Linked DNA regions of Homo sapiens: region 2 is linked to region 1. Evidence: fine-mapped expression QTL. A gene starts in region 1. The other region holds a variant in brackets. All regions are shown on one strand. Distances are between the middles of the regions. Region 1 holds the start of EIF5-DT (EIF5 divergent transcript). Region 2 has its middle 44 kb from the start of TRAF3.

The links. PIP is the estimated chance that this variant, and not a neighbour inherited with it, causes the effect.
Region 2: its variant is fine-mapped to the expression of EIF5-DT in nucleus accumbens (GTEx, PIP 0.96).

What each region holds. Positions count from the first base shown.
Region 1 is chr14:103,332,532-103,337,898 of GRCh38, forward strand. EIF5-DT (EIF5 divergent transcript) reads right to left here and starts at 2,129. Exons shown (of 1, transcript NR_158216.2): 1 at 1-2,129. It overlaps EIF5 (eukaryotic translation initiation factor 5), which reads left to right and starts at 1,706. Exons shown (of 12, transcript NM_001969.5): 1 at 1,706-1,729; 2 at 1,858-2,066; 3 at 3,122-3,401; 4 at 3,505-3,586; 5 at 4,146-4,318; 6 at 4,585-4,696. The coding sequence starts at 3,330. SNORA28 (small nucleolar RNA, H/ACA box 28) reads left to right here and starts at 5,318; the gene lies at 5,318-5,367. RefSeq lists an enhancer at 1,162-1,281 and silencers at 1,602-2,021, 2,162-2,211, 2,322-2,561.
Region 2 is chr14:102,730,948-102,736,314 of GRCh38, forward strand. No RefSeq gene overlaps it. Among named protein-coding and RNA genes, the nearest start is that of TRAF3, 44 kb to the right of the region's middle. The variant C/T (reference allele first, on the strand shown) is at 2,432.

The DNA of each region.
Region 1 (5,367 bases):
GAAGCACGATCTTGGATTTTGATATAAAAATCAACATAGCTGCCAATTCTAACCTCAGTGCAAATGCAACTGGTCCAAAACAAAGGGCAGCCCCTTATCTACCTCATCCTGTCCTCAGCAACATTTCTCTTTTCCAGATCGGGAAACCTGCACGGCCGCTCAGGACTTCTCGATGACTGCACCTTAGAGACCAGAGTGCAGGTTAGCGGGGCTCTCGCTCCATCAGTCAAGTGAGGTCTTCAAACTTCAGGGTGAACTATGGATGTGTTTTTAAGACTCAAGTTTTCACAAAAAAAATCCAAGTTTCAGAAAGAATGGGAGAGTTTCAACAGAACTAAAATATGAGAGCCTCTCTCTAAATAATAAAAATTTTCTTTTTTTTTTTTTTTGGAGACAGTCTCGCTCTGTTGTCCAGGCTGGAGTGCAGTGGTGTGATCTCGGCTCACTGTAACCTGTGCCTCCCGGGTTCAAGGATTCTCCTGCCTCAGCCTCCCGAGTAGCTGGGATTACAAGCGAGCCACCACGCCCAGCTAATTTTTTGTATTTTTAGTAGAGACAGGGTTCCACCATATTGGCCAGGCTGGTCTCAAATTCCCGACCTCAGGTGATCCGCCCACCTCAGCCTCCCAAAGTGCTGGGATTACAGACGTGAGCCACCGCGACCGGCCTAAATAATAGTAATTTTCAACGGAATACATTGGAATCTCATTATAAATGCCTGCTCTGGGCTACGATTTGCTTATCAAAGAATTCACAAGTCATAAACTAGAGGGGGTGGACTCGACGTGATGCCCACTAGGAGAAAGGTGACAAGAGAAGCACGAAGGATAGCGCTTTTCAACCCTGGGAGAGCAGGGAGGCCTTCACCAGAAGGTGGGAACCCACCACGAAGCGCCTTCAGGAGGCCCCAGGATTCCAAACCAATTAAGGGCCTCCTCTTCCGAAAACGGGAGGCGACGCGCTGAGCTAAGCGCGCAGGCTGGGTTGCGGGCCGACACCGAGGCGGCGCGGCCTCGCGACCGCCCTGGGCGGTCACTGGCGAGTCACGGACTCGTTCCGCCAGCGGCCAATCCACCCCGAGTCCGAAACAGAAGACGTCCCTGGGATGAAAGACCCAGGCCTGGGGCTTAAGGTGGAAAAACAACTCATTCCTCGAGGCCCGGAGTCGGGCGTCCCGGGAGAACGGGAAAGGGAGATGAGCGCCCGCTGCGGGGAGAACGCGGTCGGGTTCCTCTCCCCGAAGGTGGCAGCCGCAAAAACACGGCCTCGAAAGCAGTTTCGAGGACGATGGCTCCTGCGTCCCGGGAGTCGCCATGACGCCGCGGCCTGTCCCAGACCCGGCGAGGGAGGGGACCAACCACCATCTCCCCCTCAAGGCCCAAACCGACAAAGAACGGCCCCCGGTACCCCGGCCCCGCCACCAGGGCCACTCCGGGTCTCGCGAGACCCAAGGGCTGCGCCGCGAAGACCTCTGGGAAAGGCGGGGGGAGGGGAGAGGAAGGAAGCGAGACCGGGGCTGGAGGCGGGCCGAGGCCGCGAGTTGAGCCTCAGGAAGCAGAAGGGGCGCGGAAAGATGCGATTGACGTCGCAAGCGAACCAATGACGAGCGAGCTGTGGCAGGCCTCCAGCCAATGGGCAGTGAGGCCTGACGCGGGGGGCGGACGCTGGGGCCGAGGGTAGCTTGAGCGCGGCGGCGGCGTTGTTCAGTCAGAGCGAGAACATTCCAGAGGTGAGTCCGGTGAAGGGGCGGCCCCCTGCCCGGTGCTTCCCGCCCCCTCGACCCCTCGGGCCGCTGGCTGGCGGGGAAGGTGCACTCCCCGACCGCCCACGGCTCACGGCGCCGTCTCTCCGCGCCAGGTCGCCCAGCTCCGGCGCTGACGGGTGTGGACCGCGGACGTCGCTGGGACAGCCCCTCCCCGCTGCTCGGCGGCGGCACCTGGCCCGGCCGCTCCTCGCTGCGCTTCGCCTCCGCCTCCTCGGACTCGGACTCGGGTTTATATCGCGCCTCACTTCATCCCAGTCCCGGGCGAGCAGCGTTGGGTTTATGTCTTTATTTGACGAAAACGGTGAGTCGCGGGCGCGGCGGGCCAGGAGATGGCGGCCGCACAAGATGGCGGCGGCCGCCGCGTGACCCCGCCGCGGCGTGTGGCGCAGTTTGGGCGGACGGCGGGCGGGCGCGGGCCCGGGCGCCGGCCGCCCCCTCCCCGCGCGCTCCCCGGCCCGGCCTCGCCCCCTCCCCGGCATGGCGGGAGCGCGTCGCGCGTGCCCGCCGCTCGGGCTGACTCAGGCTTCAGCTGCTGCATTTGTGAGTCATCGCGCGCTCTGGGGCGGGGGCGGCCCGATCCCGGCACCCCTCGGCCGTGTGTCGCTTCCCGGCTGTGCACCCTCCGGGGCCGCCGGCTCTCGGGGGACGCGCTGGGGATGGGGCCAGACGCCCCGGTCGCGCGCCCCCCTCCTTCGCGGAGCTGCCCGGTTCGCCAGCCCCCGCGGAAACGCCTCGGAGCGCGGTAGCCATGGGGACCAGGGCGAAGGTTAACCGAGTATTTGAATAGCGAGGAAAAGGGAGGCCGGGGCGAGCCTGGCGTTCGCTCGCGCTCTCTTGCTTAATGGCAAATTGTGGGCGAGCGCTGCGTTTAAGGAAGTGCTGCTTTGAAGTAAGCCATGGTTGCCGAAGCAACGATTAGTTGTAGAGAACAGTTCCCTAGGTTGCCCTTAAAAATGAAGACGAACGGGGGTGTGCCTGAGAAGTTTGCTTATCCAGGCGGGGTGGGCGGCGGAGAGGGCTCGGGTTCGTTCTTCAGCACTTCCAGGATGGCCGCAGAGGCAAACCTGCTGATTGCCCTCGGTCTGATGGAATCTCACGGCGGCTGAGGCAGCACAGCTTGTGTTTTCTTGTCAGGCATTTCCCTACCAGTCACAGCTTAGTCGAAATGGAGGCCTTTTTATGTTCCCGCAGATTGTACTGTGTTACATGAGAATGGCTGTTTGCATGTGATCTCAGATGCTTTTTAAGGTGGAGTTAAGCAGAAGCATAACTAGGATGTAAAAAGGAGGCGTTTCCATCCAGCGATGATGTTAAACCTGGGGGGATTTTTGTGTGTTCTTTCCCTTTTTCTTTCAGAGCTGTTGCGCAGCCATTGGTACCTGTATTGGGGAAACATAGCATACAAGCAAGAAGCTTACAGCCTCAGTGGCGAAAATTTTTTCATGTCAGAGACCGAGAACTCTTGCAGTCGTTTATGTCATCCCTTCTTCTCCAGACAGAAGATACCAAAAAGTTGCAATCAAAGATCTCTTCATCTTATTGATAAAGCCACTAATAAGCCAAAATGTCTGTCAATGTCAACCGCAGCGTGTCAGACCAGTTCTATCGCTACAAGATGCCCCGTCTGATTGCCAAGGTAATAAACTGCTCTTCAATTTAGTTGATAGCTCTTTTTGTAGAATTTTGAAGTTTGCATTTGTCAGGGGAAACTGCACAACTAAAATTCTTATTTCCTTTAGGTTGAGGGCAAAGGCAATGGAATCAAGACAGTTATAGTCAACATGGTTGACGTTGCAAAGGCGCTTAATCGGCCTCCAACGTGTAAGTAAAGCTTGGAAAAGTCCACAGGGCATATTATGGATAGAGTCTTCAAAGTCTTTGAGCTGCAAAACTTGTTCTAATTGTATGCTAGCTAATTACCTTACAAGTTAAGTGAGGAACCGTGGTTTATTGGTTGCCATGAGTTTACAAAACTACCAGGGGAACGCATTTAAAGAGTGGATGGCTGGGCGCGTTGGCTCACACCTGTAACCCCCAGCACTTTGGAAGGCTGAGGCAAGCGGATCGCGAGGTCAGGAGTTCTAGACCAGCCTAGCCAACATAGTGAAATCCTGAGTCTACTACTAATACAAAAATTAGCCAGGCGTGGTGGCATGCGCTTGTAGTCCCAGCTACTTGGGAGGCTGAAGGGGGAGAATCGCTTGAACCCCGGAAACGGAGGTTGCAGTGAGCTGAGACCACGCCGTTGCACTCCAGCCTGGGTGACAGAGTGAGACTCTTGTCTCAAAAAAAAAAAAAAAGTGGTGTTCGTACAAATGTGAGTGAGTAGCCAGAGATCTAGTTAACTGTAACGATCCAAACTCCTTTTTCATTCAAATAGATCCCACCAAATATTTTGGTTGTGAGCTGGGAGCACAGACCCAGTTTGATGTTAAGAATGACCGTTACATTGTCAATGGATCTCATGAGGCGAATAAGCTGCAAGACATGTTGGATGGATTCATTAAAAAATTTGTTCTCTGTCCTGAATGTGAGAATCCTGAAACAGATTTGGTAAGTGCTTTTGTGGTTGTCGAAAGAAAAAGCCATATACCTGCTTCTGTGATACCGCTAAGTCACCTTCCTGAGAAGGCAGAGCAAATGTAATTTTAAATCAAACACAAAACTCCAGTTTTCGAGATATTTCCATTCTTTTTTTTAAAGTAGGTCACTGTGTGAAAAAAGTTTTCTTTGCATGTGAAGCTGTCTGTGGTTTAGATGTCCTCTGATTAGATATTTTCATGTTATATTATGGATAACATTTGTTATTTTTTTGGCAGCATGTCAATCCAAAGAAGCAAACAATAGGTAATTCTTGTAAAGCCTGTGGCTATCGAGGCATGCTTGACACACATCATAAACTCTGCACATTCATTCTCAAAAACCCACCTGGTGAGTCTTCCATGATGAACTCCTAAGATCCTAAGATAAGTTACTAACTGTTGGGAACAAAATAGAAGGTTTTTTTGTAATAGGAATGTAAGGGAGACTGGGCACGGTGGCTCATGCTTGTATTCCCCGCATTTTGGGAGGCCAGGGCGGGCACATCACTTGAGGCCAGGAGTTCAAGACCAGCCTGGCCAACATAGTGAAACCCGTCTACTAAAAACACAAAAACTAGCTTAGCATGGTGGTGTGCTCCTGTAATCCCAGCTACTCCGGTAGCTGAGGCATGAGCGTCGCTTGAACCTTGGAGGCAGAGGTTGCACTGAGCTGAGATCGTGCCACTGCACTCCAGCTTGGGCAACAGCGACTCTGTCTCAAAAAAACAATATAAGGAACCTTTTAGTCCTTGTACTATATTTTATCAAATCTAAGACATCTTTCAAAAGTGTATTGTTAATTACCATTAAAGGTGAAAAATAGGCTGCCAATTAAACTGTGCCATATCAATTAAGACATTATCTGAGGGTAGATGAAGTAATGACTAAAATTCTGCTGGAAACCCAGCAAAGTTTCTTTTACTGGCATTGTTTGGTAAAGAGGGCCCCCTTCATTAAACTTGAATATTGCAAGCAACACTCTGTGGCAGATGATCAAAACTGTCTGACACAATTTGAGCT
Region 2 (5,367 bases), 600 kb before region 1:
AGAGGCAAGATCACTGCCGCTGTGGCCTCTGCTCAGCCAAGAGTGCATGCACACCAGTGCCGGTAGTTTCCTGAGTAGCGTGAAGAAGCTGGCGGTGGCTGTGGTCTCATGGTCTTCCCTTTATTAGCTGGGATGTAGAATTTGATTAGATGACTACTGTAGATTGGGGCTAGAAGTCCAGTGCACTATCCATTGTGCCACTGAGCTTGCTCACTAGATAACTTCTATAGAAACCCAATTTCTAGGTCCAGGCAGATGGGGCCCCTGTGTGTGACTGCACAGTGTAGGAGGGTTGTAGAAGGGTGACCGGGTCCAGCCTTCCCAGCGTGGACAGTCTAGTGGAGGACACTGCACATATCCTCCAGGTGACAGCAGTCAGCACCACGGCGAGTGGAGCCACAGCTACAGGCAGGTCTGGGAGGGAGGCTGCAGCTGCCTCGCATCTAATTTAGAGAGTGCCTGTCCCGGAGCTGAGCCTGTGGAAAGGGGAGAGGGTCTGCTTGGGTGAGGGTGGCACCTAGGGGCCGAGGCCAAGAGTGTTGGGACCTCCGCTGTGATTTGTGAAGGTGGCTTGTGGTCTAGAACAAGAGGAAATGAGTGCCAAGGACAGAGAGGAGGAAGGTTGAGGCCAAGGTGGCCCCCTGCCAAGATGCTGCTGGACATCTGCTAGGTTGGGCACTGAAGGTGGAGCCATTTGGACTTGGCCTTTAGTGACTTCAAAGAACCCCGGGCGATGGCTGAGGCTGGGAAGAGGGAGCTATGGAGGGTTGAGGGAGAGCCCCTCTCAAAGACTGGCCTAACTTGAGCGCGTGCAAGGGCACAGGATAGGAAGGGATAGCAGGCGGGCTGTGAGTCCCGAGTCAGACACATGGAGGCCCTGGCTCCAGCTCCCTTTTCTCGGACTGAGGGGGAAAAAAACACCTGTATACAGGTGTAGATGAGGCGCCTCTGTGCCTCACTTCCCATCATCTTGGCCCTCCCCACAACCCCGGCTTCAGACAGGTGTGACTGCAGCACCCTGAGGTAGGTGACCTAGGGGAGCTCAGGAACAGCAGCCTGGAAGTAGCAGGGAGCTCCATCCCCAGGGGCAGCTCTGGGTAATCTGGGTAAGGCAGCCATAGACAGCAGCTCCCCCTCAGCGGCCCCCTGCAGAGACCAGCTCAGAAATGGTCTAGGACTGATTCTCCTTCCCTGCCTCACTTTTTCTGGCCCCCTACTTCTGTTGCCTGGGATTGGTTTCTAAAGCAAACCATTTACCCACAAAGCCTCATCTCAGGCTCTGCTTTTGCGGGGAATCTAGGCCAAGACAGCACCACAGTGAGAATTACAAGGCTCGGGAGAGGCCTGGTGAGGTCCCTGCCAGGCCTGTCCCAGCCTTTCAGCTTATGGGAGGGAGAGATCTTGAGAGCACTTGGTGCTGACACTGCTGGAAAGGCCATAGTACCCACGCCCAACGGGGAGCAGCTGCACTGCTTGGAGGCAGGTGCTGGCTCTCAGAAGCTCCCTTCCCTGCAGCTCCCAAGCACCGTGCTTCCCACGCGCCAAGCACATGCTAGGCACTGACTCTTGGAGCTGACAGGTATTTGAGGCTCTATGCAAATTGCTTGCCTTCTCGACAGATCAGAGGCCATGCCTGGGGCATCATTTGGGCCCAGACTAGCTCATGGATGACCCTGACTTATTCTTTGTTTTGGGGTCTTTTTTTTTTTTTTTTTGAGATTGAATCTTGCTCTGTTGCCCAGGCTGGAGTGCAGTGGCATGATCTCCTCTCTGCAGCAGCCACCTCCCGGGTTCAAGCAATTCTCCTGCCCCAGCCTCCTGAGTAGCTGGGATTACAGGTGCGCACCACCATGCCCAGCTAATTTTTGTATTTTTAGTAGAGATGGGGTTTCACTGGGTTGGCCAGGCTGGTCTCGAACTCCTGACCTCATGTGATCCCCCCACCTTGGCTTCCCAAAGTGTTGGGATTACAGGTGTGAGCCACCACGCCCAGCCGATCCTTTGGTTCTGGGCTGAATGGAACCCACCCCCCAAGAGAGCCCCCCAAGTACACTTTCCTGTTGTCCCAGAAGCAGGAGCACAGTCACAGGCCTTGAAGCATCCGCTTGCCTGCCCGCTCTGCCAGCTCACCCTCCCTTCACCGTTTCCCAACTGCCTGGGTGCTCCGTCAGCACCTGAGGACTCCACAGCGCTCACACCTAAAGCCCTGTTCCCAGAGCTCAGCTGCCCCTGGACCACTCCACCCCCATGCCCATCCGTGCCTCCAAATTACACAAAGTCTGAGACTAAAACCCTTTTCCCCGGCACCTGTTTCTGCATCTTCTGTGGTGTGTGACACTGCTGTGTATCTGGTCGCCAAGTTAGAAGCACTTTGATCGATCACTACTGCCAGGGACAGCACAAGTCCTTCTTCCCACCCGAGGGGGTGCCG[C/T]GGCCTCCTAACTAACCTGCCCCTAATCCCCACCATTCCTCTTGCCTTTTCTCTCCCACCCCCCACCTAATCAGGGACCTCTCCTGTGGAAAGCGGAAAGCATTGCATCTGTCTCCCAGAAAATGCACAGCCCTTCATTCTGCCCTAACCTGACTTCAGGGGTGCGGCCAGGCACCTTCCCTTCAGCTCGGCCTGCCCCGGGCCCAGTCATGCGTCCCCGTCCGTCTCTGGTCCTGACGAACCCCTTCCTCCACCTTCTGCAGGGGGACTGATTCTTGGGGCCTCTACAACTTAAGCCTCATTCTGTGCTGACCTCTTTGTGCTAACTGTAATGAAGTGATTTTAAATTTTTATTTTAGAAATAGTTAACTAGCGTTCCTGGTATAAAAGGCCTACGTGAAGTGTGAGTTTCTCATCCCTGTCCTCTGATCACCTAGTTCTCTCCATAGGCGGCCATTGCTGCCAGTTCCTTGCATATCCCTCAAGGGATGATCACACATTTGCGGGCATGCATGTGTGCACACAAATGACATACTCTACACACTAGCTTTGCCCACCTGACACACTGATAGTCTTCTTAGCCTTCCTGCATCAGCACATATGTCTAAAGTCACTGTGGGCCGGGCGCAGTGGCTCACGCCTGTAATCCCAACACTTTGGGAGGCCAAGGCGGGTGGATTACCTGAGGTCAGGAGTTTGAGACCAGCCTGGCCAACATGGTAAAACCCCATCTCTACTAAAAATACAAAAAAAAATCGCTGGGCATGGTGGTGCACACCTGTAATCCCAGCCACTCGAGAGGCTGAGGCAGGAGAATCACTTGAACCCAGGATGTGGAGGTTGCAGTGAGCCGAGATCGCGCCACTGCACTCCAGCCTGAGTGACAGAGTGAGACTGTGCCTCAAAAAATAAAAAATAAAGCTGCTTCATTCCTTTGTATTGGCTTCATGGTATTCCATTTATGGCGGAAATGATTTATGGAAACCATCGTCAATTGACAGGCACAGAAGTATCCTTTGTAACATCAGCAGAATGGAAATCACGTCACTTCACCTATGTGCCAGTGTAGTTGCAGGATAAATAGAATCTCTGGATGAAAAGATCTGGTTCATTTTTCCATTTGATACGTACTGCTCACTGGCCTTCCAGAGCAGTTGCATCAGTTTCTCCTGTCTGCGTGAACAAGGCCGCTTGTTGCCCCACGCCCTTGCTAACGCTGTGATAATTGCACATTTTGATCTGAGGTGTTTGATAAGCTGTCGGGCTCTCTAGATTGAGCTCCTTGAGGTCAGCACTGTTGTGCTCTAGTTCCCCACAGCTGGGAATAATAGGCACATAGATGTGTAGTAACGGAATAGAGAAATCGGGTGCATTGCGGAGGAAAAATAAACGCCTGCTGGCCCCGTGCTTACGGATCAAAGGCCCTGCCATGGCTTATGAGTGACTCCCAGGGAGTGGGATTCCCAGCTGCCAATTCCTGGGTGTCCAGAGAGGAATTAGCTGAGGCTTAGGGTTTTCTGGGCCTTTTTCTTGTTTATTGAGCTGTCTGCTACTTAGGTATTTATTGCCAAAGGACTAGGGGAAGAAACATTCAAATCTGAAGGCCTGGTGATTGTAGATTTTTTTTTTTTTGAAACAGGGTCTTGCTCTGTCGCCCAGGCTGGAGTGCAGTGGTGGGAGCTTGGCGCATTAGAACCTGCACCTCCCAAGTTCAAGTGATTCTCATGCCTCAGCCTCCCAAGTAGCTGGGACTACAGGCATGCATGCACCACCACGCCCAGTTAACTGTTTTTGTTTTTGTTTTGAGACAGAGTCTCACTTTGTTGCCCAGGCTGGAGTGCAGTGGCGTCATCTTGGGTCACTGCAACCTCCACCTCCCAGGTTCAAGTGATTCTCCTGCCTCAGCCTCCCGAGTAGCTGGGACTATAGGCGAGTGCCGCCACACCTGGCTAATTTTGTATTTTTAGTAGAGACGGGGTTTCTCCATGCTGCCCAGGCTAGTCTTGAACTCCTGACCTCAAGTGATCCACCCACCTCAGCCTCCCAAAGGGTTGAGATTATAGGCGTAAGCCACTGCACCTGGCTGTAGATTTTAAATGAGATTGAATTCCGGATTCTAAGTCCTCCCCCTCCCTCCATTCCTTGGTGCCCTTCTTACCATCCACGCTCCTTAATGGGGAGTTGGCTGGCTGATACATGTGAGGAGATTGGCCAAGTTCTGGCCTGGACAAGCTGAAGACACCTTCCTGCCAAGATGGGGCAGGTAGTGCTTCTCACAACTACACTGGAAGCAGGAAGGGATGGTCCCACCTGCGCAGTCATGGGGAAGGCATCCGGGAGGAAGGGACAGTTGAATAAGGACAGCGGCTCGCCCGGGCAAGGGTGAGTGGCAGCACAGGAGGAACTGGCCCCTTGCAGTCAAGTAGGCTGTTTCCTTGTCAATGGAGGGTATTAGAATTTTGTGTGGTTCAGGCCAGGTGCAGTGGCTCACGCCTGTAATCCCAGCACTTTGGGAGGCTGAGGCGGGTGGATCATGAGGTCTGGAGATCGAGACCATCCTGGCTAACACGGTGAAACCCCATCTGTAGTGGCGGGCGCCTGTAGTCCCAGCTACTCGGGAGGCTGAGGCAGGAGAATGGCGTGCCAAGTTGCTACTACTCCGAAGTAGCTGGGTTTACAGGCGCGCCCCTGCACTCCAGCCTGGGCGACAGTAGGACCCTGTCTCAAAAAACTAAATAAATATATAAATAATTTTAAGTGTGTCTTTTGCTATATAGCAAATTATTTATGTTTTTTAGTAATAATTGCTAGATTTATTGGTGACTGCTTTGCCCCTAAGGACCAAGCATGCATTTCATAATTTAATCTTTATGTTAACCTCACAAGTAGGGACTGTCATTATCTCTGTTCTATAGAAGAGGAAGCCAAGACTTAGA